2 linked regions of the Homo sapiens genome follow. The protein of the gene in region 2 purifies or fractionates together with the protein of the main gene of each other region. This does not show direct contact. Each region holds a gene or a part of one and is shown on either strand. Other genes may lie near its edges.

Evidence for each region. Proteins that work in one complex are often made in the same cells at the same time.
Region 1: the proteins of CTRC (region 2) and SUMF1 purify together in Homo sapiens (affinity purification with mass spectrometry; 3 studies listed by BioGRID and IntAct, with this or other methods). This does not show direct contact.

What each region holds. Positions count from the first base shown.
Region 1 is NC_000003.12:4,464,246-4,471,436, reverse strand, and holds the start of SUMF1 (formylglycine-generating enzyme isoform 1 precursor), read left to right. Parts: upstream 1-4,167; 5' UTR 4,168-4,191; coding exon 4,192-4,461; exon of another isoform or gene 4,462-4,613; intron 4,614-7,191.
Region 2 is NC_000001.11:15,434,116-15,441,464, forward strand, and holds the start of CTRC (chymotrypsin-C preproprotein), read left to right. Parts: upstream 1-4,327; 5' UTR 4,328-4,349; coding exon 4,350-4,389; intron 4,390-6,184; coding exon 6,185-6,276; intron 6,277-6,377; coding exon 6,378-6,475; intron 6,476-7,349.

The DNA.
Region 1 (7,191 bases), on a different chromosome or scaffold from region 2:
GGAGAAATTGGACGGCTCATACATTGTTAGTGGGAATGTAAAATGGTACAGCCACTTTGGAAAAGTCTGGCAATTCCTCAGAAGGTTAAACAAGACCAGGAGTGGTGGCTCACACCTATAATCCCAGCACTTTGGGAGGCCAAGTCAGGAGGATCACTTGAGGCCAGGAGTTCGGGACCAGCCTGGGCAACATAGTGAGACTTCATCTTTACAAAAAAATAATAAAATGACCTGGACGTGGTAGCAGCTTGTGATCCTGCAGGCTGAGGTAGGAGGATTTCTCAAGCCCAGGAGGTTGAGGCTGCAGTGAGCTGTGATCATGCCACTGCACTCCAGCAATCCAGCCTGGGTAGCAGGGCAAGATCCTGTTTTTTTTTTTTTTTTAAACCCAAACCCAAAAGGTTAGAATTTCCATATGACCCAGCAATCCCACTTCTAGTATATATGAAGACAAATGAAAACATGTGCAAACAAAAACTTGTACATGGATGTTCATATCAACATTATTCATCAAACCCAAAAAGTGGAGCCAAGTGTCCTGCACGTGTGAAGTAGATAACATTTTGACTTGTGCCTTTCCTACTCCAAGAGCCTCAGGCAGCATCACTGTCTGAGGGCTTTCAGAATGCCTTATGCATAGGCATATATTCCTACACCACATGACATCTGACCGGGGACCCACTTCACAGTGAAGGAGGTGCAGGGGTAGGCCATGATCACAGAATCCAGTGGTTTTATCCCTTACAATACGAACCCAAAGCAGCTGGCCTCATAAAGGGTGAAAATGGCTTACTGAAAGCACAGCTGAAACGCCAGCTTGGATGCAATTTCCTGCAAAGATGGGGCCATCTATAAGGATGCAGTATACGCCCTCAATTAGAGATGTCAGACTTGTTCCCACGTAGGAAGAATATATAGGTTCCACCAAGAGGTGGAAGTAGAAGTAGCCCCACTTACTATTACTCCTACTGACTTACTGGGATTTTGTTCTCCCATCCCTGCAACTCTGAGCTCTGCAGAGCTGCAGGTCCTGATCCACAAAGGGATGCTGTCTTTCTGTGGACACAACCAGGGTCCCATTGAACTACAAGCCATGGCTACCATCAGGGCACTTTGCATTCCCTGTGTTCAGGAACCAGAAAGCAAGAGAAGCCTCTAACCTGGAGGGAAAATTGATGCTGCTCAGCAGGAAGAGTGTCAGATGTCTTCTCAAAACTGCAGTGGCACCAACTTTCACAGTAAAAGCTTACCAGAACATCCATGACTTGGCCCAATGTTACCTTTCTGTTCTCCTTTCATCCATGACTTGGCCCAATGTTACCTTTCTCATCTCCTTTCCTTTCTTCTCTCCCCCTTGCTCACTCCACTGTAGCCATGCTGAACTCTTTGATGTTCAGTGAGCAGACAAGCTGCTTTCAGGACTGGGGTCTTTCATCCTCCCAGCTTCATGAGATAGAAGGAGCAAGAAAGGCTACAAAATGCAGAAGGAGCTCACACGTGAGACGGAGGGTGAGAGATATTTTATATAATTACACTAATTCGTACGAGCTGATGGCTGAGTTGGACTTTTTACCTCTTAATTTTTAGAACAAGCCTCCTCACTGACAGGAGCAAAATATTAGAGTGGAAAATATTGATGAGAAATCTCTCATCGATCTCATACTCATTGATTATTGACTAAAAAGTTAGCCTGAGACAAAAGAATGATCGTCCTGGAGAACCAACAAAGTTCCATCTTTCATAATGATTAGTAATAGCAAAGTTATTTTTGAGATATGTTAAATGTCAGGTACCAGGCTACACCTTTTATATACTTTGTGTTATTTAATCCCCATAAAATCTATAAGAAAAAGGAATTATTATTCCCATTTCACACACGAAGAAATAGAGGCTCAGAAAGCTGAAATAATTTGCCTAGGTCATACTTCATGTAAAGTGGCCAGCTTTAACCACAGCTCTTTGTGAGTCTAAGACCTATATTATTTTCTCCACAATTTGATTCCCCTTAAGAGAAAGAGATAATCGTTACTTCATTTGTTCATTCACTTATCCATAATTTAATAAATGTTCACTGAGTGATCATGTGCAGGCTTGGCCTGATTTTGCTGATACAGTGGCAAACGAATAGGCTCCTGCCTTACCTTCATGGAGGTTATAGCCTAATGGTATAGCTGGACCAGGAATCAAAGAAGTTCAGGTCTCTGAAGCGCAGCTGACACAGCATGTGCTGAGACTGATATTTGAAGGAGGCGAACAAAGATTACCGTTGACCTAGACCTTGACTATATATTATGCACAGTAAATACATACAACCTTGGTTAAGGCATTGACCTTTTAGCTTCATCAATTTTGAAATGAGTATAGTAATAATACATTTCTTGCCAAGTGGTTGTAATCTCAAATGAGAAAATGTGTGAAAGGCCTTGGCAAACTGTAAAATAGTCAACAAGGAGAAAAGGCCTTTTTTTTTTTTTTGAGAGATGGTCTCACTTTGTCACCCAGGCTGGAGTGCAGTGGCACAATCATGGCTCACTGCAGCCTCTGCCTACCAGGCTCAAGTGATCCTCCTGCCTCAGCCTCCGAAGTAGCCAGGACCACCGGTGTGCGTCACCATGGCCAGTTAATTTTCTTAATTTTTTGTAGAGACAAGGTCTTGCTGTGTTGCCCAGGCTGGTCTCAAGCTCCTGGCCTCTAGCGATTCTCCTGCCTCGGCCTCCTAAAGTGCTGGGATTACAGGCTTGAGACACGGTGCCTGGCTGGTCTTTTCTTTATGCTAAAAAAATTCAAACAGATGCTACATTAGAATAGTGCAATAAACACCCAGATGCCCATCAACCAGCTATGACAGTTATCAACTCATGGCCAATCATGCTTCATCTTTAGCCAGACCCTGATTACCCATTTTTTGGGAAGCAAATCTTTGACTGCCTATATTTTTATCCATATATATATATGTGTGTGTGTGTGTGTGTGTGTGTGTATACCTCAGTGAGTGTGTGTGTACCTCAGTGAGGGGATTCTTTTAAAAAATATAGCCACAAATACCATTATTACTCCTAAAAGCCTAAAAACAAAATTTACAGCAATTCCTTAATTTTATCAAATATTATAATTTGACTTAGTGGTTAAATTTCCCTGATTATCTCAAAAATTTTGAACTCAGTAGGTTTGAATTAGTATTTAGATAAGGTTCACATATTGCAGCTGGCTGCTATGTTTTTTTTTTTTTTTTTTTTTTCAGATGGAGTCTTGCTCTGTCCCCAGGCTGGAGTGCGGTGGCGCCATCTCGGCTCACTGCAAGCTCCACCTCCCGGATTCATGCCATTCTCCTGCCTCAGCCTCCCGAGTAGCTGGGACTACAGGCGCGTGCCACCACGCCGGGCTAATTTTTTGTATTTTTTAGTAGAGATGGGGTTTCACCGTGTTAGCCAGGATGGTCTCGATCTCCTGACCTCGTGATCCACCCGCCTCGGCCTCCCAAAGTGCTGGGATTACAGGCTTGAGCCACCGCGCCCGGCCTGCTATGTTGTTTTTTAATCTGTAAGTTTCTCCTTCATCTTCTTTTTGTTTTGGTTTTGCATTTTGTTCGATTACGGAACTGTAGAACAGTGGTTCTTAAACTTAAGTGTGGATTAGAATCATCTGGAGAGCTTGTGAAACCCTGGATTGCTGTGTCCAGTCCCCACGGATTCTGATTCCGTATTGTATTTCTCTTTTTTTTTTGAGACGGAGTCTTGCTCTGTCGCCGAGGCTGGAGTGCAGTGGCGGGATCTGGGCTCACTGAAACCTCCGCCTCCCAGGTTCAAACGATTCTCCTGCCTTGGCCTCCCGACTAGCTGGGACTACAAGCGCGCCATTACTGGGTCTTTGTGAGGATTAAATGAGATTTTAAAAAGTGAAGTGCTTAGCATAGTACTCTGGCACTTACCAAATGCCCAGCAAATTTGACTGTTATTTTTCAACCAAGAAATCATAAAGGGGTGCACGGTCTGTGGAAGGCCTTGAGTTTTGTGGAGTTTTGTGTTTTGCTGCGTTTTGACGTTAGCACAGGCAAGCAGCAGCGCCAAAGAAGTACCTGAAGAAAGGTGAAGAGCAACTCTCCTGGTCACTTCGTAAGTCAGCTCAAAATTCTGCCCCTTTAAGGAGGGCTCAGCCACGTGACCAACCGGGTCACATGGCCCGCGGGACAACATGGCTGCGCCCGCACTAGGGCTGGTGTGTGGACGTTGCCCTGAGCTGGGTCTCGTCCTCTTGCTGCTGCTGCTCTCGCTGCTGTGTGGAGCGGCAGGGAGCCAGGAGGCCGGGACCGGTGCGGGCGCGGGGTCCCTTGCGGGTTCTTGCGGCTGCGGCACGCCCCAGCGGCCTGGCGCCCATGGCAGTTCGGCAGCCGCTCACCGATACTCGCGGGAGGCTAACGCTCCGGGCCCCGTACCCGGAGAGCGGCAACTCGCGCACTCAAAGGTGCTCCATCGATTCCTCCGAGGCGGGTGGGGGCTGCTCGGTTCCTGGACGGGGTTGGAGTAGGCAAAGCAAGGCACTAGTAGGAAGGGAAGTAAAGGTTATAACCACACCCCAAATCGAGCACCTGCTGTTCCCGTATGAGGAGTTCCTTCTCCGTGCCTCACCGGAAGACTCCATTTAATTGACCATTAGGGAGTTTGGTTTGAGGGTTATTGTTACTTCTTTACCCCCTATTTCTTTCTCCCTCCAACCTGTTCTCTTAATGAGGATCTCATAATTTTAAGGCAATCAAATTATGGTTTAAATCACCATTTCCTCTCTTATTAACGGAATAAATTAGGATCCTGGGTCTCAGTATCTTCACCAGGGTTGTTGTATACTTATCTGTAGTCTCCTCGAGTACACTCTGCTTGAGGACAAGGGCTTGAATTGTTTATCCTGCTATTCTTAGCACTTTAGCACTTAGGAAGGGCTAAGCAAACTGTAGTTGTTTTATTGCTATTATTTATCTGTCTTGCTTAGCGCCTGTATGTGTTAGGTGCCGGGATATATAAATAACTTACTGGCCGGGCGCGGTGGCTCACATGCCTGTAATCCCAGCACTTTGGGAGGCCGAAGCGCGCGGATCACGAGGTCAGGAGTTCGAGACCAGCCTGGCCAACATGGCGAAACCCCGTCTCTACTAAAAATACAAAAATTAGCCGGGCGTGGTGGCGGGCGCCTGTAATCCCAGCTACTCGGGAGGCTGAGGCAGGAGAATTGCTGGAACCCGGGAGGCGGAGGTTGCAGTGAGCCGAGATCTTGCCACTGCACTCCAGCCTGGGCGACAGGGCGAGACTCCGTCTCGAAAAAAAAAAAGAAAGAAAGAAATAACTGTTACTTCAATCTGTCTGCCCGGTATTTTGCATATTGATGTGTTGTCGAAACAACTTATGGGTCTAAAGGTCAGGTCTTCTGACTCCTAAACTAGTGCTCCTTCTTGTTTACTTAGCAGACACTATCCTTTTCCCATTCCATTTTTCTTTCCTTTGGGTTAATCCTGACCAATATTTAGGACTTAGGTGAGAGGTAACATCCACAGTAGGTTTTACCTGATCTCCTCTTTCTCTCCCCTTCAATATTTCCGTATCCTGCCTCAGTAGTTATGTGTTTATTCTGACATAACAATTATTAAAGATGTTTTTCTGCTGATGTCTCTCCCCAACTGGACTGTGAGGGTGATGGGGTCAGGACCATGATTTAGTCTCTCAGGTGTAGAGTGTAGGAGGTTGATACCTGGGCTTCTCATTGTTTTTCCATCCTGTATAATTTTTGGCCTTTACTTTTTTTCCTGTTACCCTTAGAGCATGTCCTGCAGTACTGTTTATCTTTTGTGTGTTGAAGACTCCTGATTACTGTTTTAGTGTGTATTGGCCATACTTGATATTAATTCCTCTCTAACTTGCCTGGTAATTGATAATCAATCTCTCTTTCTTTTTTCTTTTCTTTTTTTTTTTTTTAGACGGAGTCTCGCTCTGTCACCAGGCTGGAGTGCAGTGGCGCGATCTCCGCTCACTGCAATCTCCACCTCCTGGGTTCGAATGATTCTCCTTCCTGCCTCAGCCTCCCAAGTAGCTGGGATTACAGGCACACGCCACCATACCCAGCTAATTTTTGTATTTTTAATAGAGATGGGGTTTCACCATGTTGGCCCGGATGGTCTCAATCTCCTGACCTTGTGATCCGCTTGCCTTGGCCTCCCAGCGTGCTGGGATTACAAACGTGAGCCACCGCGCCAAGCCAGTCTGTCCCTCTTTCTAAGGAGAAATCCTTACATCTGTTTATCTATTTTTTAATAGGGCAGCCATCTCATTTGCATATATACATTGGTCTGTCTCAAAATTTTATCTAGATTCCTCTGGCAAGCATTGAACATTTTTCATTTTTAAACATTCTATTTTCCTCTGGGTTCCAGAATGGGATGTGGATGTTAGAATCTTTTGGATTACATTTACAAGATGTACATTTTTCATCCCTATAGAGTGGTTTTGTGTCTTGACTGGATGCTATATGGGCCATCTTTGGCCAGTTCTTATAGTCTGCTTTCTACAATGCTTAGGGGCATCTCAATTTATTAACAAATTAGTGGTTGATGAGAATATACCTTCAAGCCTTCAAGGGCTGAACTTAATGACTGAAACTGAAGCAGTCTTGTTATCAAGACAATGACGTCATAGGAGGCTGTTCTTAATCTCTCTATTTTCCTTGGTTTCAAATGTTTTAGTTCATGTGCAGATGACTTTGGTCTAATTCTGACACTTTACCATTTATTCTAAATTCAGGAACTCCAATATTTCAGGAGAAGTAAATGAGCATAGTGGTGTTTCTGCCTTTTTTCCCCTCTTTGTTTTCTGTTTATTTGGTTTAATTAAACAAATGTTTATTTGGCACATTACTATATAACACTTGTTATGTAAGATTCATCCTATGTGCTGGGCATACAGAAAAAGACCCATACACTACCCACATGGCATTTACACTCTGGTAGGTGTTTCTCTCTCTCTCACACACACACACACACACAAACACACACAGACACACACATAAGTATCATTTTTCTATAGTGAGAATACTATAGGAGGGATATGTCCAGAGTACCTGGAGAGGAAGAAAGAATTAATTCTTCATGGACAAGTCGAGTAGTGCCTCAAAAAAAAAAAGGCCACATTTGAGCTAGGCCTTGGAGGAAAT
Region 2 (7,349 bases):
GAATGCAGTAGCATGATCATAGCTTACTGCAGCCTCAAATTCCTGGCCTCAAGTAGTCCTCCCACCTCAGCCTCTAGAGTATCTGGGACTACAGGCATGTGCCACCACACCCAGGTAATTTTTTAAATTCTTTTAGAGTCAGGGGTCTCGCCATGTTGCCCAGGCTGGTCTTGAACTCTTGGCCTCAAGGGATCCTCTCACCTCAGCCTCCTGAGTAGCTGGGATTACAGGCACGAGCCACCATGCCCAGCCAGTTTTTAATATTTTTTAAATGGAGAAAGGGGCCCATGAAGGCAAAAGTACTCAGTGACCAAGTCCAGTCTCAAGCTTTCTCATAAGAACCAGATAACAACAATAATAATAGTAATAGCAAACATTTAGACCGTCCTTGCCATATGCCAGGCACTTCTTCCAACAGCCCTAGGAGGGAGGTACCATTTTCTTTCTTTTTCTTTTTATTTTTTTGAGACGGAGTCTTGCTCAGTCACCCAGGCTGGAGTGCAATGGCACGACCTCGGCTCACTGCAACCTCCGCCTCCCGGGTTCAGGCAATTCTCCTGCCTCAGCCTCCCGAGTAGCTGGGATTATAGGCACCCACCATCATGCCCGGCTAATTTTTGTATTTTTGTACAGACAGGGTTTCACCATGTTGGCCAGGCTGGTCTTGAACTCCCGACCTCAGGTGATCTGCCCACCTCAGCCTCCCAGAGTGCTGGGATTACAGGCATGAGCCACCGTGCCCGGCCAAAGGTACCGTTTTCACTCTCACTTTATAAACGAGGAAGCACAGAGAGGTTGCGTCACAAGCATAAGGCCATAGAGCTATGAAGCAATAGTGGTGGGTTTAGTTCAACCCTAAGCAAAGCACTCAACATCCTGTCTTCAGCATCTGAAACAGATTAAGGGCGACCTCGGTTTTCTCCAGGGACAATTGTTTGGTGCTGCCTTACATAAAAGGTCCCTCCCTGTAGATGTCTCAAAACAAGCAAGTTTCCCTATAGCTGAGCAGCCAGCAACCTCCCTCCAAAAAGGTCAGTTTCTCTGTGAACCTTCAAAGAGCTGACAATAACTCTCTTCACCTGGGACCTCATCATCAATCCATTTGGCTATTTCTATGTTTGTGTACATGTTTGAATGGGTGGCCCATGGCTCTGCTTGGCTCTACACATAACCGAATGCTTTATATGTATTATATCATTGGTGTGTGCATATTTGTGGACGTGGAGGAGCGTGTGTGTGCATGTGTGTGTGTGCGTGTGTGCATGTGTGCATATGTGTGTGTATGTTTGTGTGTGCATGTGTGCGCGTGGGTGTGTGCATTGTGTGCATGTGTGTGTGCGTGTGTGTCCATGTGTTTGTGTGCGTGTGTGCATGTGTGCATGTGTGTGCATGTGTGTGTGCATGTGTGTGTGCGTGTGTGTGTATGTGCGTGTGTGCGTCGCCTGTCCACGTATACTTGTGAATCCATGGGCATGTATACACAGCTGAGATGCGTGCTAACAAGTTGCTGTATCTCTGAGTATAAATTGATGAGCTCCTACAAGGAGACGCCCAGTTAATTCATTTTCCCAAGTTGATCAAGGGACATGAGAGAAACTGAGGCTCAAAGAGGTTGCTCAGGGTCTGGGTCATCCATTCTGTCACTGAGATGGAAACCAGGTGTCCTGTCTCCCCGCTTCAGACCCTGCTAATTTCCAAGACCTATCACCTAGCTCAAGCCATATCTCTGCTTATGTTCCCAGTTTCCAGGCTAGAATGACCCTTTGCAAGGCTTGGCAACCAAAAGCCCTGGGTCTGAAGCAGACTGGCCAGTAGCCACTGATAAACCTGTATCATGCACAACCAACCTCCAAAATGAAACAGAAAATTCCCCGCAGGCTGAAGTCCCCAGACACCCCAGGACTGAGGCCTTGATGTCACCATAGCTGAGCAGAGCCCCCAGTGCACATTCCCACTTTTATCTTTCTTAAAAAATTAAACCTATTGATTTTTATACTACCAAGGTAACTATGTTTGTTTTAAAAAAGAATTTAAGCTGCATAAAAATGTGTAGTTAGAGGCCAGGCATGGTGGCTCACACCTGTAATCCTAGCACTTTGGGAGGCCTATGTGAGTGGATCACTTGAGGTCAGGAGTTCGAGACCAGCCTGGCCAACGTGGTGAAACCCCGTCTCTACAAAAGGAACAAAAATTAGCCAGTGGCACTGGTCCCGGCTACTCAGGAGACTAAGTAAGGTAGGAGAATTGCTTGAACCTGGGAGGCAGAGGTTGCAGTGAGCCAAGATCGCACCACTGCACTCCAGCCTGGGCGACAGAGCGAGACTCCAACTCCATCTCAAAAAATAAATAAATAAATAAACAAACCAGCCTGGCCAACATGGTGAAATCCGGTCTCCACTAAAAATACAAAAATTAGCCGGGCATGGTGGTGGACATCTATAATCCCAGCTACTCGCGAGGCTGAGGAAGCAGAATTGCTTGAACCCAGGGGTGGAGGTTGCAGTGAGCTGAGATCGCACCACTGCACTCCAGCCTGGGCCACAGAGCAAGACTCTCAAAAAAAAAAAGTGTAAGTTAGAATCCTCCTTCACCCCCAGATCACCGCTATGAATGGCGGGGTGCGTAGTGCTCTGAACTTTTCTATCAGGAAGGAATTCCTAAGGTGGCCAGTAGGCCCAGCTCAGAAAATGACCTTCAAGGGGAGCTCAGTATGAGTAGAGGGGAAACGAAAGACAGAATCTAACCAACCAGGCTGAGGCCAGGCCTTGGGGCGAATGGATCAAACCACATGTTCCAAGGGATGGCCAACCCCGAATGCCGGAGGCTCTGGTAGAATTTCTGCTACTCAGTGCTTTGGGCCCTCAGATCTGCCACTGACCTTGACATTCAAGTTACAGAATTGTAGAACTGAAAGGAGCCTGAAAGTCCATCTGGTCCTTTTGCCCATTTTAGAGATGGGGAAACTGAGGACCTACAACTAAGCTGACTCCAGGAAGGAATCTGGCCAACTAAGCACCTTCCAGAGCCTGCTGCATCCCTGCCTCCAACCACAGCCCTGGAGGCAGGTGCAGGAGTGCATCAAGCCCAGGCAATTAGAAAGATGAGACAGAGAGAGAGCCAGGAAGCGATCCAATAGCACTAGAAAGGCAGAGAAGGAGCAGCATGTCTCCACAGCTTGAAGCCCCAGGCTGGTGTTAGAAGCTTTGGCTTCAAAGTCTGGCTCTGCTGCTGCCCAGCCGTGTGACCCTAGATGGTCACTTACCCGCTGAGTCTCAGCTTCCTCACTTTTATTTTATTTTTTTAGAGACAAGGTCTTGTTCTGTCACCCGCGCTGGAATGCAGTGTGGCACGATCACGGCTCACTGCAGCCTCGAACTCCTGGGCTCAAGCGATCCTCCTACCTTGGCCTCAGGAGTAGCTGGGACTACAGGCATGCACCACTGCGCCTGGTCCTTTCTCATCTCACCTCAGAGCAGATAACCGCGTCTATTTCATGTTGTTGGAAGAATTAAGTGAGATAATGCAAGAAGAATTGAGCGCAATGCCTGACACACAGTAGGTGCCCAATAAATAACTAAAAAGAATAAGGTAACGGCCTGTAATCACACCTGTAATCCTAGCACTTTGGGAGGCTGAGGTAGGCAGATTGCCTAAGCTCAGGAGTTCAAGACCACCCTAGGCAACAGGGTGAAACCCTGTCTCTACTAAAATACAAAAAAAAAAAAAAAAAAAAAATGGTGGCACACATCTGTAGTCCCAGCTACTTGGGAGGCTGAGACAGGAGAATCGCTTGAACTCGGGAGGCGGAGGTTGTAGTGAGCTGAGACTCCAGCCTGGGTGACAGAGCAAGATCCTGTCTCAAAAAAATAAATAAAATACAAAAGATTAACCTGGCGTGGTGGCAGGCGCCTGTAGTCCCAGCTACACAGGGGGCTAAGGCACGAGAATCGTTTGAGCCCGGGAGGTGGAGGTTGCAGTGAGCTGAGACTGTGCCACTGCATTTCAGCCTGGGCAACAGAGCAAGACTCCATCTCCAAATAAATAAATAAATAGTATAAGGTAGGGAGAGAGAATGAACACACACGTCAAACAGAGTGGGGTGGGGGATGCCAAAAAGCACTGCAACTCAGAATTTTCTGTTTCAGGATATTTGGAAAATCCATACTTCTAAGAAAGCCCTGTCTCCTGCCCAAATTAAACAGTAACCACCCAAGGTCAGGGAAAGGGCCTTATCAGAGCAGGTTTCTCTCCAAGGGGCGGTTTGGCCTTGACCAGGTGCACTCACCTGCTCCTGCCTATAAGTGTGCCCCAGCCCATCCCGATGGTCAGCCAGTCCTGAGCACCTAACCATGTTGGGCATCACTGTCCTCGCTGCGCTCTTGGCCTGTGGTAAGCGGTGGGGTGGGGCTGCAGCTAGCAGGCTGTGAGCTCGGGCTGGCCTCCAGGGCAAGGACGGGATGGGGAGTGGGGGGGCCTCTGCTCTCCAGGTAAGACACTTTGGGGTCCCCTGTGGGTTCAGATGCTACCAACCAGCTGTGTGTCAGACAAGCCACAGCCTGCCTGCCAACTCTGTTTCCACATCTGCAAAACAGGGAAGATGATCTGACGTGTCCCCAGTTAGAAATGAGGTGTGGAAAGCACCACGCAAGGGGGAGGGACACGAGATGCCTCATCCTGGGTTCACCCCAGGGACCATCGGGGTCTGCCTTTCCCAGCATTCTCTCTCCCTTGAGGATTCTCCATTCCATCATTTTGGTGGCGTTTTCCCAGATTAGGAGCCCAGGGACTTAGCTTAAATGCCACTTCTTCTCTGCAGGACCTGGAAAAGTCATTTCACCTCTCTAAATCTCACTAACTTTTTTGGCAAAGGAGAGCACTTAATGAAGAGTCCTTCCAGCTAACAACAACAACAGTAATAATAGCAGCTCCTGTTTCCTGTGTGTTTACTATGTGCCAGACGCTATGCTAGGCCCCTTACATGTAGGAGCCAATTTAATCCTCAAAACAACCTTAAGAGGTAGGGTCTATTGCCAGGCATGGTGGCTCACGCCTGTAATCCCAGCACTTTGGGAGGCCGAGGTGGGTGGATCACTTGAGATCAGGAGTTTGAGACCAGTCTGGCCAACAAGATGAAACCCCGTTTCTACTAAAAATACAAAAATTAGCCAGGCGTGGTGGCGGGCACCTGTAATCCCAACTACTCAGAAGGCTGAGGCAGGAGAATTGCTTGAACCCAGGAGGAGGTTGCAGTGAGCCGAGATCGCGCCATCAAACTCCAGCCTGGGCAACAAGAGTGAAACTCCGTCTCAAAAAAAAAAAAAAAAGAAAAAGAAAGAAAAAGAGGTAGGGTCTTTTCATAGCCCCATTTTACAGATGAGGACATCGAGGTTCCGTGCGACTTAGTATCTTGCCTGACATCACATGGCAGGTTAGTGGAAGAGGCAGAATTTGAGTCCACGTCTGTCTCGCGGAACAGCACGTGTTCTTGACCGCTCCACACAGCTTCCCAGCTATAACAGTGGATTTACTGCTCTCTCACACACACACCATGATGCAGGGGCCTAAAAACAGACAGAAGAACACAGGTGTACCGGGCACTCGCACACATGCCAGCCAGTTTTGTTTTGTTTTGTTTTGTTTTTTGAGATGGAGTTTTGCTCTTATCACCCAGGATGGAGTGCAATGGCACGATCTCGGCTCACTGCAACCTCCATCTCCCAGGCTCAAGCGATTCTCCTGCCTCAGCCTCCTGAGTGGCTGGGATTACAGGCATGCACCACCACGCCTGGCTAATTTCTGTATTTTTAGTAGAGACAGGGTTTCGCCATGTTGGCCAGGCTGGTGTCAAACCCCTGATCTCAAGCGATCCACCCGCCTTGGCCACCCAAAGTGCTGGGATTACAGGTGTGAGCCACCGTGCCCGGCCAAACGCTTTCTTTTTTATGTGTTGTCTAATTCAGTTCTCAGGGCAAACTCACCGCATTAGTGTGATTCTTCACATTTCACAGAAAGGGAAAACAAGGCCTAGAGACCTGGGTGGCTTACCCCCGTGACACAGTAAAATATCAACCCCGTGTCTGCCCAGCCCCAACTCTGTGCTTCTTCCACCTGCCCACCCTCCCACCCCTTTCCCCGTGGGCTACCAGCCCTATTCACTGGTTCTTCTGGCCTCCTGTCTCCCCAGCCTCCAGCTGTGGGGTGCCCAGCTTCCCGCCCAACCTATCCGCCCGAGTGGTGGGAGGAGAGGATGCCCGGCCCCACAGCTGGCCCTGGCAGGTAAGCCTGTGTAGGGCTGGGAGGTACAGATAGAGAGGGTGGCGGGGTGAGGGTCCCAGGGACCTGCAGGCTGACACACAGCCCTCCCCACCCTCCTGCAGATCTCCCTCCAGTACCTCAAGAACGACACGTGGAGGCATACGTGTGGCGGGACTTTGATTGCTAGCAACTTCGTCCTCACTGCCGCCCACTGCATCAGGTGTGCGGGGATGATACCCTGAGACCTGGCCATCGTCCGGGGGCGGAAGCCTGATACTCTGCTTTTTCTGAGCAGCTTCTCCGCACTCCAGGCACTGGGCTACATAATCTACTCACACCCAGTAACTCAGTTGTGCATTTAGTCAGTCAAGTATTCATTGTGCATCTATTATGTGCCAGGAACCAGCAGTGAAGACAAAGTCTGTGCTCTCGGGAAGCTTATATTTTTGTGGAAGACAGAGCGGCAGACAATTAAACAAATATATAGCATCTCAGGTGATTTAAAATAATACTAATAATAAGGTATTGGCCAGGAGCAGTGGCTCACGCCTGTAATCATAGCACTCTGGGAGGCCGACGCAGGCGGATCACCTGAGGTCAGGAGTTCGAGACCAGCCTGGTCAACATAGTGAAACCCCGTCTCTACCGAAAATACAAAAATTAGCCAGGCGTGGTGGCGGGCACCTGTAATCCCAGCTACTCGGGAGGCTGAGGTAGGAGAATCACTTGAACACGGGAGGCAGAGGTTGCAATGAGCCGAGATGGCGCCACTGCACTCTAGCCTGGGCAACAGAGTGAGACTCTGTCTCAAAAAAATAAAAAATAAAAATAAGGTCAGAAGAGGACAAACAGAATGAGGGGTTCAGTTTTAAAAGGGATGGCCAGGGGAAGAGCTGAAAGGGGGATATTTGGCAAATATTTGGGACATTTCGGAGAGCTAAAAGGGGGTTATTTGGGCAAAGGCCTGAAGGAAGTGAGGGAGGAAATCATGGATCTAGGAGAAGGGTGTTCCAGGCGGAGGGAACAGCCATGCAAAGCCTTGGAGGAGAGACCTGTCAGTATGGTTGAGAAATAACGCGGAAGCCGGTGTGGCA